4 linked regions of the Homo sapiens genome follow. The protein of the gene in region 2 purifies or fractionates together with the protein of the main gene of each other region. This does not show direct contact. Each region holds a gene or a part of one and is shown on either strand. Other genes may lie near its edges.

Evidence for each region. The genes of interacting proteins can lie anywhere in the genome.
Region 1: the proteins of CDH16 (region 2) and DCBLD1 purify together in Homo sapiens (affinity purification with mass spectrometry; one large-scale study listed by BioGRID and IntAct). This does not show direct contact.
Region 3: the proteins of CDH16 (region 2) and SLC39A6 purify together in Homo sapiens (affinity purification with mass spectrometry; one large-scale study listed by BioGRID and IntAct). This does not show direct contact.
Region 4: the proteins of CDH16 (region 2) and PCDHGA11 purify together in Homo sapiens (affinity purification with mass spectrometry; one large-scale study listed by BioGRID and IntAct). This does not show direct contact.

What each region holds. Positions count from the first base shown.
Region 1 is NC_000006.12:117,499,674-117,503,173, forward strand, and holds part of DCBLD1 (discoidin, CUB and LCCL domain-containing protein 1 isoform 1 precursor), read left to right. Parts: intron 1-3,500.
Region 2 is NC_000016.10:66,908,886-66,912,385, forward strand, and holds part of CDH16 (cadherin-16 isoform 1 precursor), read right to left. Parts: coding exon 3,357-3,500; intron 3,256-3,356; coding exon 3,014-3,255; intron 2,431-3,013; coding exon 2,297-2,430; intron 1,618-2,296; coding exon 1,375-1,617; intron 1,209-1,374; coding exon 1,101-1,208; intron 499-1,100; coding exon 382-498; intron 1-381. UniProt on the Homo sapiens protein: Cadherins are calcium-dependent cell adhesion proteins. They preferentially interact with themselves in a homophilic manner in connecting cells; cadherins may thus contribute to the sorting of heterogeneous cell types.
Region 3 is NC_000018.10:36,110,186-36,112,340, reverse strand, and holds part of SLC39A6 (zinc transporter ZIP6 isoform 1 precursor), read left to right. Parts: intron 1-1,091; coding exon 1,092-1,282; coding exon of another isoform or gene 1,283-1,294; exon of another isoform or gene 1,295-1,347; intron 1,348-2,155. UniProt on the Homo sapiens protein: Zinc-influx transporter which plays a role in zinc homeostasis and in the induction of epithelial-to-mesenchymal transition (EMT).
Region 4 is NC_000005.10:141,419,888-141,423,850, forward strand, and holds the start of PCDHGA11 (protocadherin gamma-A11 isoform 1 precursor), read left to right. Parts: upstream 1-1,163; 5' UTR 1,164-1,340; coding exon 1,341-3,773; coding exon of another isoform or gene 3,774-3,854; exon of another isoform or gene 3,855-3,963. Other genes in the region: PCDHGB7 (protocadherin gamma-B7 isoform 1 precursor), read left to right, coding at 1-387. UniProt on the Homo sapiens protein: Potential calcium-dependent cell-adhesion protein. May be involved in the establishment and maintenance of specific neuronal connections in the brain.

The DNA of each region.
Region 1 (3,500 bases), on a different chromosome or scaffold from region 2:
ACCATATCACAACCAGGATACTGACATTGATACCTAAGACAAAGAAGATAAACTGATAGATTTTTAAGTAACTTTTGTCTTCTTTGTCAGTGATTGTCAATTAGAGAGAGTCAGGCTATGAGAGGTAGGCTACCTGAGTGTCAGAATGAGGTAATAAGAATAATGCTTCTCCTCATCTCTACTAAAAATACAAAATTAGCTGGGTGTGGTAGCGCATGCCTGTAATCGCAGCTACTCAGGAGGCTGAGGCAGGACAATCGCTTGAACCTGGGAGGCGGAGGTTGCGGTGAGCTGAGATCGCACCACTGCACTCCAGCCTAGGCAACAAAAGCGAAAGTCCGTCTCAAAAATAAATAAATAATACTTGTCTATTGGTTTTCATGTGTACGCATCTGCCTTCTTCAACACATGACATTGTAGGCATTTTCTCTCCCTAGCAGTTTTTCATTTTACCCTTTGGCATCTTTCTACTTAATCCTTTGAAATCACCCAAACTGTGGAAGCACAAGAGAGTGAAAATTCCTGATGTAGTTAATACCCATGGAATAAACTTATTATATTAGTCTTGCCACAGAAAACTCCATAAATAGTCTACTTCCATAGGTTAGAGTGATACTAGAACTTCTGATGACAGTTCGCTTTTTAATAAATTAGGACTCAGCACTTCCTTTGCGATTCAGGTTCTTTGGCAGAACAAAGACTCATGGGGTTTTGTTCTGATAGTTAATGGAAGAGAGAAATTTTCCCAAGGAGGTAGAGATCCCCAGGCAAAGTAACGATGGGAATGTTGACGATTTGAACTTGCCTGCATTGTGCCAGCATTGCTGGGTGAAAGAAGTTTCCTCTTAGGCCTTACAGTGGAAGTGGTCGGAAAGAAATACAATTACAGGGCTGAATAAAAGTGATACCCTGGCCGGGTGCGGTGGCTCACGCCTGTAATCCCAGCACTTTGGGAGGCCGAGGTGGGTGGATCATGAGGTCAGGAGATCGAGACCATCCTGGCTAACACGGTGAAACCCCGTCTCTACTAAAAATACAAAAAAATTAGCCGTACGTAAATGCACCTGTCGTCCCACCTACTCGGGAGGCTGAGGCAGGAGAATCGCTTGAACCCAGGAGGCAGAGGCTGCAGTAAGCCAAGATCCTGCCACTGCACTCCAGCCTGGGCGACAGAGTGAGACTTCGTCTCAAAAAAAACAGTGACACCCTAAGATTTTCTTTTGCTGACACATGTCACTTTAAAAAAATAAAATTTAGAATATGATAGTCACATGTAGGTTGACTCATATAATTGCTCCTTATTTCATATTTAACTGTTTTCTGAAAAAAAAAAAGTTTTTCTCTTCCTCTTTTATGAAAGGAGAATTTCATAGTCCTAAGAAAAGTGACATTTAAATATTTGATCAGGAGATTTTTTGGTGGCTTGGAGAGGTTGTGTTGTGTTTATATTGAGATGCATATTTGTTTGTACTAATTACCCTAGGATTGCTTTATGAGGGTGCTCAAAATAAATGCTTACAAAGGTAGGGCAGGTAACAGAAATGAGTAACAAGGACCTGGTGAAGAACTAGGGTGTTTGGCTCCTTTCAAGGGACAGCCACTGTGTCACTAGCCCTGTGAGAATGCCTGATCATGTGGTTGTCACGTCTTTCAGTTGTCATTGTTGTTGTTGTTGTTGTTGAGACGGAATCTCACTCTTGCCCAGGCTGGAGTTCAGTGGCATGATCTCAGCTCACTGCAACCTCTGCCTCCTGGGTTCAAGCGATTCTCCTGCCTCAGCTTCCCGAGTAGCTGAGATTACAGGCTCGCGCTACCATGCCCAGCTAATTTTTGTATTTTTAGTAGACACAGGGTTTCACCATGTTGGTCAGGCTGGTCTCGAACTCCTGACTTCAGGTGATCCGCTGCCTTGGCCTCCCAAAATGCTGGAATTACAGGCATGAGCCACCACTCCCAGTTTGTCCTTCAGTTTTAAAGAGAAACTATAAATTGGATATTTTATTAAAGCCCTTTAAAGCCGACAAATAATTCAGATTTCAAATCAAAGCCCCGTGCACTGTGTGCTCCTGCACACTATGCTTCTCTCTTGTATCATTTTCATTTAATTCTTGGCAATTTTGTGTTTACCAACTGCCAGGGAGCCCAAGGAATTTAGCCGTCACCTCAAACTTAACCAAACTTACAACCTTTGGGCCCAAACCTGCTCCCTCTCTGGACTCTTTTTGCTGTCTATATTGGCCTCTGTGTTGCAATCATTTCTGGACTGAACAAGGCCTTGGTGTTTTTTCTCCTTTGTTCTTCTCACCATAGTTCCCCCAAACCTGAGTCTGTTGATTTTGTCTCAAGAATTTGCCTGTTTTCTGTTCCCTTCCTTCCTGTTCCAGCTACCCCCATTGCTAGCCTGCCTACTGCTCCTCTGATCCAGATTCTGTCCCCATTCTAGTTCCTGTAGCGTTGTCCAGCCAGGTTGATCATCTTTTTCTAATACCTGTTTCGTTATCTTCCTACTCAAAAAATTCTATGTGTCTTTGTTGCCTACCATGTAAATTTCACTAATTCTGCCTAGATCTCAGGGCTTCATAGTAGTTTTATCTTGGCTGTCTAAAGTTCCCCCCGGCACTTCTTAACCCATTGGTCCATTAAAGCCAACTCTATTTCCCCAATTCAGCCCTCTGTCAGGGGCTGCCAGGAATCTCGTGGGAGTTTCTGGATAATGGGTAGATCCTTTCCCTAGGCCTTGGCTGTTGAGATGATGTAGATTCTGGAGTTTTCAAATCTTTTTCTTTTTTCTTTTTATTTTTTAATAAACCTCTATTACCATTTGGCCCCAACACCTCAAGGCAAGAAGGAAGTGGAATAAAGGAAGACTCCTGAATCCACCTCTAACTGGGGAAGAGGCTGGGAGGGAAGAGGGCTGCTTTGAGGTCCTCAGATTCACAGTATACCCAAGGTGAGGCTTCTCCATCAGAGACTTTGGGATGGAGAGGCCTTCTTTTACTACCTTTGAGAGTTCCTTCTTCAACAGCTTTCTGCTTCTCTCCCTCCAGCTGAGACCAGAAATTTTTGCTTCATTTATGTGAAGCTGTGCTAACCACAGACATTTTGCAATCTGAATGCAGTGTATGCTCATTCTCCTTGCAGCCCACCCAGTTGTGCATGTCCTTGGATAGTTGTGTGATTGACTAAGTCACTTCAATCAACTAGAGCAACTTGTAGGTTAATAGGTGAACTTCCCTATTCAGAAAAGTCTTCAGATAATTTCTTGTTTTGATGAAATGCTGGTAATTCGCTGCAACATTCTTTCTTGCCTCTCTCCTTTGCATTTTGTTTAGACCCCTGATGTATATATAACACATAGCACCTAGAATTATAGTTATTTGAATGTGTGACTATTTGCCATTTTACTCTGAGTTCTATGAGACAGCAAGTGCTGCTTTTGTGTTTCCAGCTTTTAATACCATGTCTGGTTATGAAAAGCACTCAACATAGTAGATCCTTGA
Region 2 (3,500 bases):
TGATGCAATTAGGCTAGAAAGACCTGGGTTCTGTCACAACCTGACTGTGTAACCTTGGACCAGTCACTTAACCTCTCTGAGCCTCAATGACCTCATCTGCAAAATGGGGAGATACCAGGATCTACCTCACAGGGTTGCTGGGAGGATTCCTGGCAATAGTCCCTGCCACACAGTCAATGTGCAATCATGTGACCGTAGATGCTACTATCAATGATGATGACAATGACTATGATCAAAGGGCAGGCGCATAATGACTAGGAGAGTTGGGGGCTTCCTTTTTCAGAGCTAGGGGCACCATGGGGACAAAGGTGTTTATTTGGAGGCTGTGGTCCCAACCACCCATCGCCCTCGCCCACGCAGGTAATGTCCAACCTCCATTACCTATTGCTACCAGGGTGCCTACAAGGATGCCCACTGCCGACAGCTTCGTGGGCATGCCCTTCATGCGGCCCACCTTGCGCATGCACTGCCCCTCCACGTTGCAGCGACACACGATCACTGAGGGGAGAGGGGAGGAAGGTAAGGGGAGGGAGGGGAGGGCTCCCCAGCTGCTCAGAGCCCCCAGCCCAGCCACCTGGCTGATATGTGTGTGTTTCTGCACATGTGTGTATTCACATGTGTGTGAAGATATATGCGCTAGCCAGGCGTGGTGGCTCACACCTGTAATCCCAGCCCTTTGGGAGGCCGAAATGGGTGGATCACTTAAGCCAGGAGTTCATGGCTGGCATGGTGAAACCCCATCTCTACTAAAAATACAAAAATTAGCAGGGCATGATGGTGCACACCTGTAATCCCAGCTTCTTGGGAGGCTAAGGCAGAAGAATTGCTTGAATCTGGGAGGCGGAAGTTGTAGTGAGCCGAGATCATGCCACTACACTCCAGCCTGGGTGACAGAGTGAGACTCTGTCTCAAAAAAAAATGTATGTGCCTCTGTGCCTGTTCCTGTGTGCCCAGGTATGTGTGCCCAGCCATAGGTGTGCAAGTGTGCACAGGCATGTGCTGTCCACATGAGCAGCCTGTATGCATGTGTACCAGCTCCCTCCCCTTGCATCCCAGCGGTTCCCTCAGGAACTGCAGGCTGCACCCAAGCCCAATCTCACCTCGAACCAGGAGCTGCCACATCTGGGCATTGTGGCTGACCACCACGGGGATTATGTGTTCACGTGGCTCCACCCAATGCAGGGCCAAGGTGAGGTAGGCATGGGAACCTTTTGGGACAGCAGGCAAAGACCAGGGTCACCAGCCTGGACAGGCCCTCTGGGGGCTGCTCCCCCTAGGCCTAGCCCCACCCCCATGGTAGAAGGGTATCTCACTTCCAAGTGACACCCCCTCCCTGCCTTGGCCACAGCCTCCCTCCCTTTCCCCACCACACACCATTGAGAGTCTGGAGGCGCCAATCCCGTTGCACCGTGGGGTTGGGACCAAGGGTGAAGCTGTAGGGACCGTGCCCACTGGCCAGATCGGGGTCCTTGCTGGGTCCACTCACGATCAAGCCATGGTCTTGGCGGGGTGTGCAGAGGTATTGGGAGGGCACAGGGGCAAGAGTCAGGGCTGGGGCAGGAGGGGCCTTTAGGAAGTGGATCACCAGGGGTGCAGAAGCGCTCAGTCTCGGCTCATCTGCAGAGGAGGCAGTGCTGAGCTGGCCAGGTGTTGCCAGGGGGAGGGTGAGCTCTGAGGTCCCTGGGCTGCTCCCGCAGCCCATGAGCCTCGCCTTATAGACTCCCCTGCCATGCTCCCTCCATGCTTCTCTCCACCTGTCATCATCCCCATGCCACTGTGGACATCCCTGACTTTGGCGGAGCTCACTGCTGCTGGGTCTGCCCTGTATCACAGCCCAGCTCAGAGTTGAAACCTGCCTCCCGGGGCTCCCCACCCCAGGGCCAGCTCTCTGTCCTGAGCAGTGTTCAGTGTCCTCCACACCTGGCTCCAGTGGCCCATTCACTCCAGCACTCCTTCCCCAGGGGCAGCCCCTGGTCCTCCTGCCACCTCCCCGGCCCTATACCAGTCCCTGAAGCTGACACCCTGAGAGGCCCTCCAGTGGCTAAAGGACAGGGCTGGGAGATTTTGTGTGTCAATCTAGGAGAATGATCAGAGAGGGGAGGCAGATGCCAGACTTGCCCACCGGAGGAGTAGATCCATTCTCAGAGAGGAACATTGAACCCAGCTTCATATCTGCCTCTCCTGCTTGGGGCTGGGGGTTGCCAGTGAGGGCCTCTGGGAGGAAGCTCAGTCCTGCTGTCTGTCTGTCTGAGGTTTGTACCCCCTCCCAGGGGCTCCCATCACTGCCTGGCCATACCTGTATCCTGGGCCTCCACAAGCACCGTGTAGGTGTCCCCAGGCTGGGCGCCCTGCAGGGACTGGGCGGTGTGCACCTCCCCGGAGAATTTCTCAATGCAGAGCCAGCCCTCTGAGTCATTGACTAGGGAGAACCTGCCGCCCAAAGAAGGAGGTGAGGAGGTACTGGGACTACATATAGGGTTTTGCTCAGAATCCCCCAGGGCTGTGTGACTTGCTTAAATTCCACACCCTCTCTGTGACTCAGGGGCCACAGCAAAGCCTGGGGGGCCCAGTCTCTCTCTCCAGCTTCAGGATTTGTTGTGGTGGTGGTGGTGGGTGTGGGATGAAGAACAGATCATGTGGGTAAGGGAGAAACTCTTAGAGCCTGGGAGGCCCATTTCAACTTTGCTCACTCCAGGTCACCCTGCAAGGGAATCAGAGTCTATGAACAACCTTGTCTGTCTGCAATCTGTTGGGGGGCATTGGAGGAGGGCCTGGTCCTCCCTCCAGGTGCTGAGGCATAATCTGAGCTCTCATGGGGTCCAAAACACCCCTCTCCATGCCCCACCCAGTCCATCCAGCCCCGATCCCTGCCAGGAGTCACAACCTTGGCATTTGCCATAGTTTGAGAAATTTTGCAGGCCACAGATAATGTGAGTCCCCTCTGAGGCCCTGGGGTCATCCCCAGGGAGCAGGGGCAATCCAGTCCAGGTAAGGGGCTGGGATTTTAGCTCACCTGAGGGTTCGGCTGATGGGGTCGGAGGGCTGGATGGTCAGCAGGAAAGAGCCGGCTGGGGCACTGATGGGGACACTGGCCTCGTAGCTCTCCTGGTCCAACTTGGGGGGTGGCATCACTCTCTCCACTAGCACAGTCACCGTGGCGGTGGCTCCAGGGCCTGGGCCTGGCCCCACCAGCTTCGCCACACTCTGCACCACCACCACCACCTCATGACTTGGAGCTGCCTCATAACTGAGGTTCTGGAACCAGGAGGCCCAGGTCACTGTGCGGGCCTGGGCAAGGCACATGTGCATGCATGCGTGCATGTGTGGGCCCCTTTCCCAGCTACCCAGGCCCTCACCTTGCAGAGTCTGAGTCTAACATGCCCAGAGTCTGGCTCCCAATCCAGGCCAAAAGTCCCTTCTGTGTCTCCCCTCTCAATGGCAAAATCCATGAGGCGGAAGGCGGGCTCGAGGTCAGCATCAATGGCTGTTAGCATGGCCAC
Region 3 (2,155 bases), on a different chromosome or scaffold from region 2:
ACAAGGTGAATAAGACTACAGGATACAAAGGAATCATCTTCCATTAACAAAAGTTGAGAAAGAGAATCTCATTGGAATTGAAGGGAAGTGGATGAGTTGTGTTTTCAATATTGTTCTTCTTTGTCACTAGGCATTAAAACCTTCCCAAGTTCTGGATCCCAGTTCACGTCCTTGTTTTTCTTGTTTTGGAGATATATTCACACACATACCGCTGATGCCATTTTCACTTTTGTTCCTTGTTATATGTTCAGCCATTCCTTATCATCTTCAGCATCTATGTTCCACATTCAAGTCCCATGAAGCCCCTCTCTTATTTCCATCTTCATGTGTCTCTTTTCTCCTTTTATAATTGTAGCATTGAACTCTTCAGCTGTTTTTTATGCATTACCATTATCATTTGCTGATCATCTCATGTGTGTTCTCCACCCATTCCTCCCTTCTTTGTGGCCAAATTCCAAGCTCCTTGAAAACACTGCAAGACCACAATATTAAATTTTTAGTGTTTATCATTTTGACAAAGTGTAAGCCTTAAAAAATTTTTTTGGTTAAGGTATCTGGCCAGGTGCAGTGGCTCACGCCTTTAATCCCAGCACTTCGGGAGGCCGGGGCAAGGGGATCACCTGAGGTCAGAAGTTCAAAACCACCCTGGTCAACATGGTGAAACCCCGTCTCTACTAAAAGTAAAAAAATTATCCAGGTGTGGTGGCATGCACTTGTAGTCCTAGCTACCCAGGAGGCTGAGGCACAGGAATGGCTTGAACCCAGGAAGCAGAGGTTGCAATGAGCCAAGATCGGTGCCACTGCACTCCAGCCTGGGTGACAGAGCAAGATACTGTCTCAAAAAAAAGAAAAAAAAAAAAAGTTTGTACATCAAGTTGAATGATGAAGAATAAAAAGGAAAAACAATAGTTTCTACAGCTGTTAGGGTGATTTACTAACACTGCTTTAACCCTAGGTCATTCTTAATTTTGTTTTCTTTTCCCCCTCTCAAAAACACTGGAAAATTTTCTTAAATCTGGGAAGTATCTTGGTATGTGTCTTAAAAATGATTTCTCAATGACTTTTTCCTCCTTTTTTGTTTTCTGTTAAAGGTGACTTTGCTGTTCTACTAAAGGCTGGCATGACCGTTAAGCAGGCTGTCCTTTATAATGCATTGTCAGCCATGCTGGCGTATCTTGGAATGGCAACAGGAATTTTCATTGGTCATTATGCTGAAAATGTTTCTATGTGGATATTTGCACTTACTGCTGGCTTATTCATGTATGTTGCTCTGGTTGATATGGTAAGTTTTTAAGAAGTCTTATTACATTATTGACCAACAATAAAATAGAGAAAATATTCGGTAAAGCCTCATTTTTTTTCTCTCTTTTTGGGGGAGCAGGAAGTGGAATCTTGCTATGTCGTCCAGGCTGGTCTCAAATTCCTGAGCCCAAATGATCCTTCCATCTCAGCCTCCTGAGTAGCTAGGACTATAGGCTCAATAAAATATCTTTTTTTTTGGCTGGGCACGGTGGCTCATGCCTGTTAGTCCAACATTTTGGGAGACCAAACCAGGCAGATCACGTGAGGTCAGGAGTTCGAGACCAGGCTGGCCAACATGGTGAAACCCTGTCTCAACTAAAAACTACAAAAAAATTAACCAGGGTTGGTGGCATGCGCCTGTAGTCCCAGCTACTTGGGAGGCTGAGGCAGGAGAATCACTTGAACCCAGGAGATGGAGGTTGCAGTGAGCTGAGATTGTACTACTGCACTCCAGCCTGGACAACAGAGCAAGACTCTGTCTCAAAAAAAAAATCATTTTTTTAAAAAAGATTTTAAATGCAGTCATTATGAGAAGTGATTCTATATTCAGAAATTTGTGGCATATAAGAATATAGGTTCTTTAGAGTTTTTTTTTTTTTTTTGGATTGTTGATCACACCTTTATCTTGCTTAATATGTGTCCAGATTCACAAAAATATCTACATCCTTCTGATGTATCATTTTAGGGTATGATCTCAGTAATCAGGCAGTGAATTTTCTATAGATTTGTAGGAAGTCTAGGACAAGATGCATATTGTTGGCATGCTGTATACTTCAGAATGCTTAGTTTATTAATCAACAAAGGAGTCATATCTTTTTGTCACTAATGTCCTCAAAACAATCCCAACCAATCT
Region 4 (3,963 bases), on a different chromosome or scaffold from region 2:
GACCATCCCACACCCTCTGACTCCCAGGCTGAGATGCAGTTTTACCTGGTGGTGGCCTTGGCCTTGATTTCTGTGCTCTTTCTCCTCGCGGTGATTCTAGCTATTGCTCTACGCCTGCGACAGTCTTTCAGCCCTACTGCAGGAGACTGCTTTGAGTCAGTTCTCTGCTCCAAGTCCGGACCTGTGGGTCCCCCCAACTACAGTGAGGGAACGTTGCCCTATGCCTATAATTTTTGTGTGCCTGGGGATCAAATGAATCCAGAATTTAATTTTTTCACATCTGTTGATCATTGTCCAGCCACACAAGATAACCTCAACAAAGATAGCATGCTACTGGCTAGCATTTTAACTCCCAGCGTTGAAGCAGATAAGAAGATTCTTAAACAGGTAAGTATTTAAAAATGTATTTAATCCTTTTTATATTACAATATGCCAATATATTCCAATATAGTGGTATTATTTTAAGATTCTAGATAACTTCTTCATAGAGTTCGCAAAATATAGGTCAAATTTATGGTTATCATTATTAAAACAAAAGTTTAAATTAAATGCCTCAGTCTTCCTACTATTCAAAGACATTTTAAAGCAAACTACATGGGTAATCTCCGGTGACATTTTTATGAAGTAAAATACCTTTCGGTTAAAAATATAAAATACAGGTATATTTTTACGGCATGGTATTTTAATTGAAACCCTGATGCTACTCAATTTTTCTCAAGTATTTCATCTTCATTTACTCAATAAAGGAACCTTGTAAGAATTATAGTTAGGCATCCTACCTGATGATTTTATCGGGACCGTATTATTTCCACTTCCAGAAATGTCGTTCCTTTCAGTCGGTTAAAATCAATTGGAACCAACTACAACCTACAAGTTTTCAGCTCCAGTAATATTTTGAAAACTTTTTAAAAATTAAGCAAGCCCTTTTAATAATTACTCCTTTCGCAGGTGTTCTTGGTAAAGTTTTAACGTCACATAATGTAAGTATTGTGTATCATCGTTTTTAAGCTCTACAAATACGTGTGATTCACAAAGGTGAGCGTAATCATTTCTTCTGGAATTTCTTAGTCGTTGCAATAATAAGAATGGGCTCTAGGCGCCGCTGCTCACCAATCAGGGAATGGGAAGCTGCGCGCCATTGAGTCCCTCCCTCCCCCGCCTCTACCACACAAAGCGGAATGAGATGGATACTCACAGATCCTGACACTGGAGACTTAGAAGTATTTTCCTTCGCTTTCTGATATATTTTGGATGTAGTCGGCCTAGGACTTCATAGATACATAAGCCGATTCACAACCAACCAGCTCGAGAAACCGCGGAATATCGGCTTAGAGCCTGCCATGGCGAATCGGCTACAGCGCGGGGACCGCAGTCGGCTGCTGCTGCTGCTGTGCATTTTCCTGGGGACGCTGCGGGGGTTCCGGGCCAGGCAGATCCGATATTCGGTGCCAGAAGAGACCGAAAAGGGCTCCTTCGTGGGCAATATCTCCAAGGACCTGGGGCTGGAGCCCCGGGAGCTGGCGAAGCGCGGAGTCCGCATCGTCTCCAGAGGGAAGACACAGCTTTTCGCTGTGAATCCGCGAAGCGGCAGCTTGATCACGGCAGGCAGGATAGACCGGGAGGAGCTCTGTGAGACGGTGTCCTCCTGTTTTTTAAATATGGAACTTCTCGTGGAAGACACCTTGAAGATTTACGGAGTGGAGGTGGAAATAATAGATATTAATGATAACGCCCCCAGCTTCCAGGAGGACGAAGTGGAGATAAAAGTCAGTGAGCACGCAATTCCTGGGGCGCGATTTGCTCTTCCTAATGCTAGGGATCCAGATGTGGGCGTGAACTCCCTCCAGAGCTACCAGCTCAGCCCTAATAATTACTTTTCCTTGCAACTGCGGGGCAGAACGGATGGGGCCAAGAATCCAGAGCTAGTACTGGAGGGAAGCCTGGACCGAGAGAAAGAGGCTGCTCACCTGCTCCTCCTCACAGCTTTAGATGGAGGCGATCCCATCCGAAAGGGCGCAGTTCCCATTCGTGTGGTGGTCCTCGATGTAAATGATCACATCCCAATGTTTACACAGTCCGTATATCGCGTGAGTGTTCCAGAAAACATCAGCTCCGGAACTCGGGTGCTGATGGTTAATGCAACGGATCCAGACGAGGGAATCAACGGGGAAGTAATGTATTCATTTCGGAACATGGAAAGCAAGGCTTCTGAAATATTCCAATTGGATTCACAAACTGGAGAAGTTCAAGTACGGGGGTCTCTGGATTTTGAAAAATATAGATTCTATGAGATGGAAATTCAAGGCCAAGATGGTGGAGGTCTCTTTACCACCACGACGATGTTGATCACTGTTGTGGATGTGAATGATAACGCTCCAGAAATAACTATCACCTCTTCTATTAATTCAATTCTGGAAAACTCTCCTCCAGGTACAGTGATTGCTCTTCTAAATGTGCAAGATCAAGATTCTGGAGAAAATGGTCAAGTCTCCTGTTTTATTCCTAACCACCTGCCTTTTAAATTAGAAAAGACTTATGGAAATTATTACAAATTGATAACAAGCAGAGTGCTGGACAGGGAGTTGGTCCAGAGCTACAATATAACGTTGACAGCCACAGACCAGGGAAGCCCGCCTTTGTCTGCAGAAACTCATGTCTGGCTGAATGTGGCAGATGACAACGATAACCCTCCCGTTTTTCCTCACTCCTCTTACTCTGCCTACATTCCCGAAAACAACCCCAGGGGTGCCTCCATCTTCTCAGTGACCGCCCTCGACCCGGACAGCAAACAGAATGCCCTGGTCACTTACTCTCTGACGGATGACACTGTCCAGGGGGTGCCTCTGTCCTCCTATGTCTCTATTAACTCCAACACTGGTGTTCTCTATGCCCTACAATCCTTCGACTATGAGCAGTTTCGAGACTTAGAACTGAGAGTGATAGCACGTGACAGCGGGGACCCGCCCCTCAGCAGCAACGTGTCGCTGAGCCTGTTCGTGCTGGACCAGAACGACAATGCGCCCGAGATCCTGTACCCTGCCCTCCCCACAGACGGCTCCACTGGCGTGGAGCTGGCGCCCCGCTCTGCGGAACCTGGCTACCTGGTGACCAAGGTGGTTGCGGTGGACAAAGATTCAGGCCAGAACGCCTGGCTGTCCTATCGCCTGCTTAAGGCCAGCGAGCCGGGACTCTTCGCGGTGGGGGAGCACACGGGCGAGGTGCGTACAGCGCGGGCACTGCTGGACAGAGACGCGCTCAAGCAGAGCCTCGTGGTGGCCGTCCAGGACCACGGCCAGCCCCCTCTCTCGGCCACCGTCACGCTCACCGTGGCTGTGGCCGACAGCATCCCCGAAGTCCTGGCGGACCTCGGCAGCCTCGAGTCTCTGGCTAACTCTGAAACCTCAGACCTCTCGCTGTACTTGGTGGTGGCGGTGGCCGCAGTCTCCTGCATCTTCCTGGTCTTTGTCATCGTGCTGCTGGCACTCAGGCTGTGGCGCTGGCATAAGTCACGCCTGCTGCAGGCTTCTGAAGGCGGGTTGGCAGGTATGCCCACGTCACATTTTGTAGGCGTGGACGGGGTACAGGCTTTCCTGCAAACCTATTCCCACGAGGTCTCTCTCATTGCGGACTCGCAGAAGAGTCACCTGATTTTCCCCCAGCCCAACTATGGGGACACGCTCATCAGCCAGGAGAGCTGTGAGAAAAGCGAGCCACTCTTGATAGCTGAAGACTCAGCTATCATTTTAGGCAAATGTGACCCGACAAGTAATCAGGTGAGATTTATTTCTCTGCCTCCTAATTGTTGGTGTCTTGGCACAAGTCTTTTAAGGAGATGTTTTTTGAGCCTGTTATGAAAACTGTTTGGGGGGGGGGTGGGGCGGCATATATTTAGTTCATATATATTTAGAGCAATACATGTGAGTTTTACTTTGCCTTTCATGAGATTACGATAATCTTTCAGAA